Homo sapiens: one gene and its partner. The protein of the gene in region 1 purifies or fractionates together with the protein of each later gene. This does not show direct contact. Each region holds a gene or a part of one and is shown in the gene's direction. Other genes may lie near its edges. The genes, in order: METTL26 and LZIC.

Region 1 (4,036 bases):
CGCAGGGAAAGTGCTCAGCCCACAGAAAGAGAGATGGAGGCGGCCAGTCAGGCGAGGAAAGCGTGGGCTTGGGCCGCAGAGCCTGCTGCAGGGTCTGGCCAGTCACCACCACGGCGGACACCAACATCTCCTGGCAGGGTTGTCCCTGACCCCTGACTCCCTGAGCCCCCCATGGCCCGCGTTCCCAGTCCCAGACTGGCAGCCTGTAAGCCACTCTCCTACCCTGAGCCACGTGACTGGCCCTCCCTGGTTTACCCCTTCCAACGTCCTTGCCCTAGCCAGAGCGATATGGGGTTCCCATTGGTGAAAAACGGCTCAGCAAAGGCGCTAAGCCAGTCCTGAATGCAGAGCCAGGCGCTTGGCACTTTCTGGAGAAGAGCCCGGCTCTGAGGCTGGGACCCCAACCCTCGGGCGCACATAAATCGCGGCCTGTGACTTGATTTCGGGGGTCACCGACCGACCCCTCACGCTATCCGTGGGCCCTGAGCTGGTGCTGTTACCCCAGTGTCACAGAGAAACCCTGGGGCATTATTCGTGCCCCTCCCGCAGACCGCCCAGTTCTGCAGGCTGGGACCGCCCGCCCCGCCCTCTGCCGCCCCTGCCGCCCCTGCCGCCCCTGCCGCCCCTGCCGCAACCCCGCTCTGGCCCCGCCCCAACCCGCCAGTCCACACTCATGTCCCGCCCCCCAGCCCCGCCTCCCCTCTCGGACCCGCCCCGATATGGCCCCGCCCCTCCGGCAACCCCGCCCTAAACTCGGACCAACAGGGGGCCCCAGCCCAGCCCCGCCCTCTCCCCAGCCCCGCCCCGACAGGGCCTCGCCCCCATCGGCTCACGAAGGCCAACGGCTTCCACGGCTCAGGCCCGAATCGAGACTGTCCTCCAGCTCGCGTCCTTCACGCCCGCTCCTTCCCCTCCGGCACTGGGGGGCACCGCGAGACTCTTACCCTCGCGGTCCCGCCAGCTGGGTCCTCCTATGCAGTCGCCAGCTCCCTTGCGCTGAGCCCGGCGCCAGCGGCGGCGCACGCCCGGAGGACTTCCCGCGTCACAGTCTCTTGTCTCCGCGGGCAGCAACTGTCTTAGACAGCGCCGCTGGTGTAGTGGTATCATGCAAGATTCCCATTCTTGCGACCCGGGTTCGATTCCCGGGCGGCGCACTTAGTTTTTTTTCCCATTTGAACATCGAACTCTCGCTAACGCCAGAAATTTAAAAGTAGAGAAAACCCGAAACCAAGGGAAGGCGCCCAGTCTGGCGCAGCGCTGACACAAATTTCGGAGAGTGACACAGGTGCCCTGAAAACCCTGGACGGCCATGGGCGACAGGGTGCCTGAGCTGAGGCGCCTGTAAACCAGCAAGCCAAGCTCGCCGTTCAGTCCCCTGCCTGGGACCGCCACACACCGCTGAGCCGCTCCCCACCGTGCCTCTGGCGACTGCTGGTCCTTTAACAGGAGGCGCGCGTGCTCCTGGGAGTTGTAGTTTATCAGCTTCCGACGTGCCCCGCGGTATCTGGACTACAGCTCCCGACGTGCCCCGCGGAAGCCCGGCCACCGCCCCCGACGCGACCCGCGCCGCGTCCGCGGCGGGGAGTTGTTGCTGCCGCGATGCTGGTGGCGGCGGCCGCGGAGCGGAACAAGGATCCCATCTTGCACGTGCTGCGGCAGTACCTGGATCCGGCCCAGCGTGGCGTCCGCGTCCTCGAGGTGGCCTCGGGCTCCGGCCAGCACGCAGCGCACTTCGCGCGGGCCTTCCCCCTGGCCGAGTGGCAGCCGTCGGACGTGGACCAGCGCTGCCTGGACAGGTGCGGCCCCCGGGGCGGCCACTTCTATCGGTGCGGCGGTCCGGGGCCTCAAGAGCCCACGGCCCGCAGCCCCGGAGGAAAAGGATGCGGCTCGGGCTCTGAGGGTGCGGGGTGGGAGCCTGGGGGTGCCCCCGGGGCAGGCCCTAGCTGTGCGGCCCCCGCGGCTGCGGAAGTGGGTGGACCTCGGGGTCCCCCTTCCCAGCCGCTTTGGTCTCCGCTCCTCAACGTGCCCCCCAGCCTCCCCTAAGAAATTCTGTGGGGGCGTCGGAAAGGCGGGTGCACAGGACTCGGCCCCCACCCAAGCGTTCGCCTCCTGCAGCATCGCGGCCACCACGCAAGCCCAGGGCCTGACCAACGTGAAGGCCCCGCTACACCTGGACGTGACGTGGGGCTGGGAGCACTGGGGCGGGATCCTGCCACAGTCGCTGGACCTGTTGCTCTGCATCAACATGGCCCATGTCAGCCCCCTGCGCTGCACGGAGGTCTGTGGGGAGCCCAGCATGGGTGTCTGCCGTGGCACCACTCACCCTGCATGGGGGCAGCTGGGATGCCAGATTTGCCCCCATCACAGTCGGGGTGAGGGTCTCCAGCCTCCCCCATCACAGTCGGGGTGAGGGTCTCCAGCCTCCCCCATCACAGTCGGGGTGAGGGTCTCCAGCCTCCCCCATCACAGTCGGGGTGAGGGTCTCCAGCCTCAGGGCCTGGCTTCTGTTGGGGGCAGCACCTCACTGCCGTCCTGTTCCTACTCACCAGGGGCTCTTCAGAGCAGCAGGACACCTGCTCAAACCCAGGGCCCTGCTCATCACCTACGGGGTGAGTGGGCCTGTCCACGGCGGGCCTCCCGCTCCCAGTCCTAGCTGCTGTCTCCTGCCCTGCTGAGAGTCCTCCCTCCTGGGCTCCCTGCCCCCCGCCCAGCCACCAGCACGGCCTCCCCTCCACTTCCAGTCTGTACCCCTCCCTGGGTCATCTGCCAGCCTCCCTACCCCCTTGCCCACCAGGCTGGCCTTGGCTGACTCCCTCTTGGGGACAGGGAGGGGGTGCCCTTTCATTCTCCAAACCCCAGCCTGCAAGTCTGTCCCAGGCTCTCTGGGAAATACCCCGACCTTGGTCCAGTGGGCTGTGTCCCCATGCCCACAGCCCTATGCCATCAATGGGAAGATCTCCCCCCAGAGCAACGTGGACTTTGACCTGATGCTCAGATGCAGGTCAGAGCTAGAGGCGGGGGGTCTGGCTCAGGTGGCAGGTGGCTTGGGTGGCACCCCCCAGGCCATGACTCCATCTCCCCACCCTCTGCAGGAACCCAGAATGGGGGCTTCGGGACACAGCCCTCCTGGAGGACCTGGGAAAGGCCAGTGGCCTGCTCCTGGAGAGGATGGTAGGTGGGGGAGCGGGGGCCCAGGCAACCTCTCTAGGGGTTGAGGGCCGTCCTCCAGCAAAGTGTTTCTCCAGGTGGACATGCCAGCCAACAACAAATGCCTGATCTTCCGGAAAAACTAAGCCCCTCCTTCACCCCCGCACACCTGCATCCCTGCCGGAGGCTCTGTGAGGCACGAACCCTGCCTCCCTAGGCCGGACCTTGTGGACGACAGCCCCACCCAGTCTGTGCTCTCAGCCGCTGGCCGAAGGGCCCAGCCTGCTCAGAATAAAGCATGTCCTGCTGCCGGCTTGCTGGTGTCTGCCCCACCTCCTCCTAGGAGCACCTTGTGAGGTTGGGTGGGAGACGGGGTCTCCTGTGGGGTCAAGGGCTTGGGACGTCCTGATCCTTGCTGCTGGAGCTCGGGCAGTGGGATTGGGGCCGAGACAGCTGCTGAGGCAGGATGGAGCTGGTTGGGGATGCAGGGGCGGACAGGCACTCCCTGGTGACCTTGTACCAAAGCCCAAGCCCCAGTGGGTGTCAAGGCCCCAGCGGAAACTGGCTGGGCATGGGGCACCTGGAAGGATGAGGGTCGCCCGACCAGCAGCAGCAAGCCAGGAGGTCTGAGGCACAGGGAGTGCGTTTATTCACCAGGACGGGGTGGCGCAGGCCCCTGCGGGGGCTAGTCCTGGAAGCGGTTGAGCAGCTCGCAGGCCTGCTTCTCCAGCAGCTCCAAGATCTTCTTGACGCGCTTCTCGCTGGCGGCGCGGACGTAGCTGCCGGCGTCCAGCACGGCCACGCCATCGCGCACCTCACCCATGATGACCAGCGGCCCGTCGCCCGCCGTCATGTTGGGGCAGGGGCAGGCCCAGTCCATGCCACTCAG
Region 2 (3,808 bases), on another chromosome or scaffold:
TCCCAAAGTGCTGGGATTACAGGCGTGAGCACCGTGCCTGGCCTTTTTTTCTCTTTAGAGATGGGGTTTCCCCCATGTTGCTCAGGCTGGTCTTGAACTCCTGACCTCAGGTGATCCACCCACCTCGGCTTCCAAAAGTGCTGGGGTTACAGGCGTGAGCCACCACATCCGGCCTTTTTTGTATTTTTAGTAGAGATGGGGTTTCACCATGTTAGCCAGGATGGTCTTGATCTCCTGACCTTGTGATCCACCCGCCTCGGCCTCCCAAAGTGCTGGGATTACAGGCCTGAGCCACCGGCGCCTGGCCGCAGCTGCATATTTTTAATTGCACTAGGGACTGGGTGTGGTGGCTTATGCCTATAATCCCACCTCTTTGGTAGTCCAAGATGGGAGGGTCACTTTAGGCCAGATGTTCCGAGACCAGCCTGGGCAACATAGTGAGACTCTGTCTCTACAAAAAATAAAACTTAAAAAAATTGCACTGGTATGTTAATTTCATATGGTATGTGGGTTTATTGTTTCACATAGAGATTAAAATGGCTTCCAGAGGAAAGACAGAGACAAGCAAATTAAAGCAGAATTTAGAAGAACAGTTGGATAGACTCATGCAACAATTACAAGATCTGGAGGAATGCAGGTAAGAGTTTAATTGTATGTTGTTATGCTGGAAACTGGCGTTTTTTCTGCAGCTAGCTCCGTGGATGCAGGCCCATGTGTGATGATTCTGCATTCCCCTGTAGTGTTCTTTGCAGTGCTTTGTCTATTAGAGAAGTAAACTTATTGCAGGCTTTGGAGTCATAAAGGCTGGGAAATGAAAGTCATTCAGTTAACTACTAAGTGCATGTGAACTTGAGCAAAATACTTACCTTCCTTGAAGTAGAAATAACACCTACTTTGTCTTTAGTATTTAAATCAGTCCTACCTGCTGTCAGGCTAAGAAGGTACTACTTGAACTTCTGGCATGTAGTTTCAGCCTTACCTGCACAAAGGACCACAACAGTTCATTGCAGCTTTTTTTTTTTTTTTTGAGACAGAGTCTTGCTGTATTGCCCAGGCTGGAGTGCAGTGGCGAGATCTCAGCCCACTGCAACTTCTGCTTCCCAAGTTCAAGCGATTCTCCTGCCTCAGCCTCCCGAGTAGCTGGGATTACAGGCATGCACCACCATGCCCGGCTAATTTTGTATTTTTAGTAGAGACGGGGTTTTACCATGTTGGCTAGGCTGGCCTCGAACTCCTGACCTCAGGTGATCTGCCCATCTCAGCCTTCCAAAGTGCTGGGATTACAGGTGTGAGCTACGGCACCCTGCTTTATTATGTGGTTTCTTAAGTATCCTCATTTTGGTAAAAGAAAAATGTTTACCAAAGTAACTATATTGCAGGAAAATGCCCTCACTACTACTATGTGAACACATTCACCATCAGCATTTTGATATTTCCCTTCAGTCTTTCTCTAATGTACAAGTATTAAGATTGCATTTTTCACTTGGAACTCTTCATTTTTCCATATCATGATGTTCACCTATTTCAGAGAGGAACTTGATACAGATGAATATGAAGAAACCAAAAAGGAAACTCTGGAGCAACTAAGTGAATTTAATGATTCACTAAAGAAAATTATGTCTGGAAATATGACTTTGGTAGATGAACTAAGTGGAATGCAGCTGGTAAGTATAACATATAGGCGACAGAGGACAGACTTTGTTTTTTTGTTTGTTCTTGTTTTTGTTTGAGATGCATTCTTACTCTGTCGCCCAGGCTGGAGTGCAGTGGGGCAGTCTTGGCTCACTGCAACCTCCGCCTCCCAGGTTCAAGCGATTCTCCTTACTCAGCCTCCTGAGGAGCTGGGATTACAGGCATGTGCCACCATACCCAGCTAATTTTGTATTTTTAGTAGAGACGGGGTTTCTCCATGTTGGTCAGGCTGGTCTTGAACTCCCAACCTCAGGTATCTGTCTGCCTCGGCCTCCCAAAGTGCTGGGATTACAAGCGTGAGCCACTGTGCCTGGCCTTTAGTTTTTTTTTTTTAGAGATGGGGTCTTGCTACATTTCCAAGGCTGGTCTCAAACTCATGGGCTCAAGCAATCCTCCTGCCTTGGCCTCCCAAGGTGTAACTTCTAGATGAGTGTCTGTTTATGCATACACAACATATCCTTCCAGATCTTCATTTAGTTGTGTAATTGCTTCCATGACAGGAACCAGTAAACCTTGATAAAAATTAAGGATCCGTCAATCAGTTATTGCAATATCTGATTTGTTGGACTATTTTGGTTAGTTTTTGCCTTCTTGTGTTTCTAGGCTATTCAGGCAGCTATCAGCCAGGCCTTTAAAACCCCAGAGGTCATCAGATTGTTTGCAAAGAAACAACCAGGTCAGCTTCGGACAAGGTTAGCAGAGGTAAAATTTCTTTAAATTGATTTGGTTGCTGTGTGTTTTTCATTTCCTAGGCCAATTCATTATGATATCCTATGGCTTAAAAATTTGCCAGGTGATTTTAGAGCCACAACTAACAATTTTCTGACAAAATTAGTACTTTGAGCAATTATAGTTGATAATGAATGTAGAGCTTTAAACAATATACGGCAGTTTAAATTGCCACTGACCACTTCTACCTGGACTCCACCTTTAATGTTTTACCATTTACTTCTGGAGCTCTAACTTAAAATCACATTGAGAATTAATTAGCAGCATTGCTTGTATGCATGTGTAGCCTATCTCATCTAAGAATTTCAAGTATCTTTGTAAACCTGATACTTCCAGAAGTCTGTTTATAGGCTTGGATGTAATTAAGAGTTACCAAATTATTTGTAAGTATGGGCAATTCAGTAGCATAGTGATTCAGAGCATGGACTTTGGTCAGACTGGCTGGATTTGAATTCCTGCTTCACTACTGAGGTATGTGACAAGTTTTTTATGTTTTTTTTTTTTTTTGAGATGGGGTCTTGTTCTGTTGCCCAGGCTGGAGGGCAGTGGCGCAATCTCGGTTCAGTACAACCTCTGCCTCTGGGTTCAAGTGATTCTCTTGCCTCAGCCTCCTGAGTAGCTGGGACTACAGCAGGCACATGCCACCACGCCTGGCTAATTTTTGTATTTTTAGTAGAAATGGGGTTTACCATGTTGTCAAGGCTGGTCTTGAACTCCTAACCTCAAGTGATCTGCCCGCCTCAGCCTCCCAAAGTGTTGGGATTATAGATGGGAGCCACTGCGCCTAGCCTTTTGTTTGTTTTTTGTTTTTTTGTTGTTGTTGTTGTTTTTGAGGCAGGGTCTTACTTTGTCACCCAGGCTCAGTGTAGTAATGCAATCTCGGCTCACTGTAGCCTCTGTCTCCTGGGCTCAAGCGTCTCCCATCTCAGCCCCTCAAGTATCTGGGCCCACAGGCACAACACCACCACACCCCACTAATTTTTGTATTTTTCATAGAGACAGGGTTTCACCATGTTGGCCAGGATAGTCTTGAACTCCTGAGCTCAAGCAATCCACCCACCTCAGCCTTCCAAAGTGGTGGGATTACAGGCATGAGCCACTGTACCTGGCCTGGACAACTTATTTTATTCATCCCCTTTGTGCCTAGGTTTCTCTGTCTGTAAAAACATGACAAAGATAGTCCTTACCTCTTATGGTTCTTATGAGGATTAAATGAAGTAATATGTGTAAAAGTACTTTGAATATTCCCAATGTGTGGTACATGCTATTAGTGTTTCTGGTGGAAGAGGTGATATTTTACTAGATGATTTACTAGAACTGCATTTAACATTTCTATCATATTTGCCTTGGATTATATCTGTAGTTCTTTATAATATTAATCAGCTAG

The links.
Region 2: the proteins of METTL26 (region 1) and LZIC purify together in Homo sapiens (affinity purification with mass spectrometry; one large-scale study listed by BioGRID and IntAct). This does not show direct contact.

Annotation. Positions count from the first base shown.
Region 1 is NC_000016.10:633,854-637,889, reverse strand, and holds METTL26 (methyltransferase-like 26), read left to right. Parts: upstream 1-1,584; 5' UTR 1,585-1,599; coding exon 1,600-1,796; intron 1,797-2,115; coding exon 2,116-2,278; coding exon of another isoform or gene 2,279-2,372; intron 2,373-2,549; coding exon 2,550-2,609; intron 2,610-2,826; coding exon of another isoform or gene 2,827-2,933; coding exon 2,934-3,001; intron 3,002-3,092; coding exon 3,093-3,171; intron 3,172-3,245; coding exon 3,246-3,293; coding exon of another isoform or gene 3,294-3,364; 3' UTR 3,365-3,460; downstream 3,461-4,036. Other genes in the region: WFIKKN1 (WAP, Kazal, immunoglobulin, Kunitz and NTR domain-containing protein 1 precursor), read right to left, coding at 3,833-4,036.
Region 2 is NC_000001.11:9,933,348-9,937,155, reverse strand, and holds part of LZIC (protein LZIC), read left to right. Parts: intron 1-528; coding exon of another isoform or gene 529-536; coding exon 537-637; intron 638-1,528; coding exon 1,529-1,664; intron 1,665-2,295; coding exon 2,296-2,394; intron 2,395-3,808.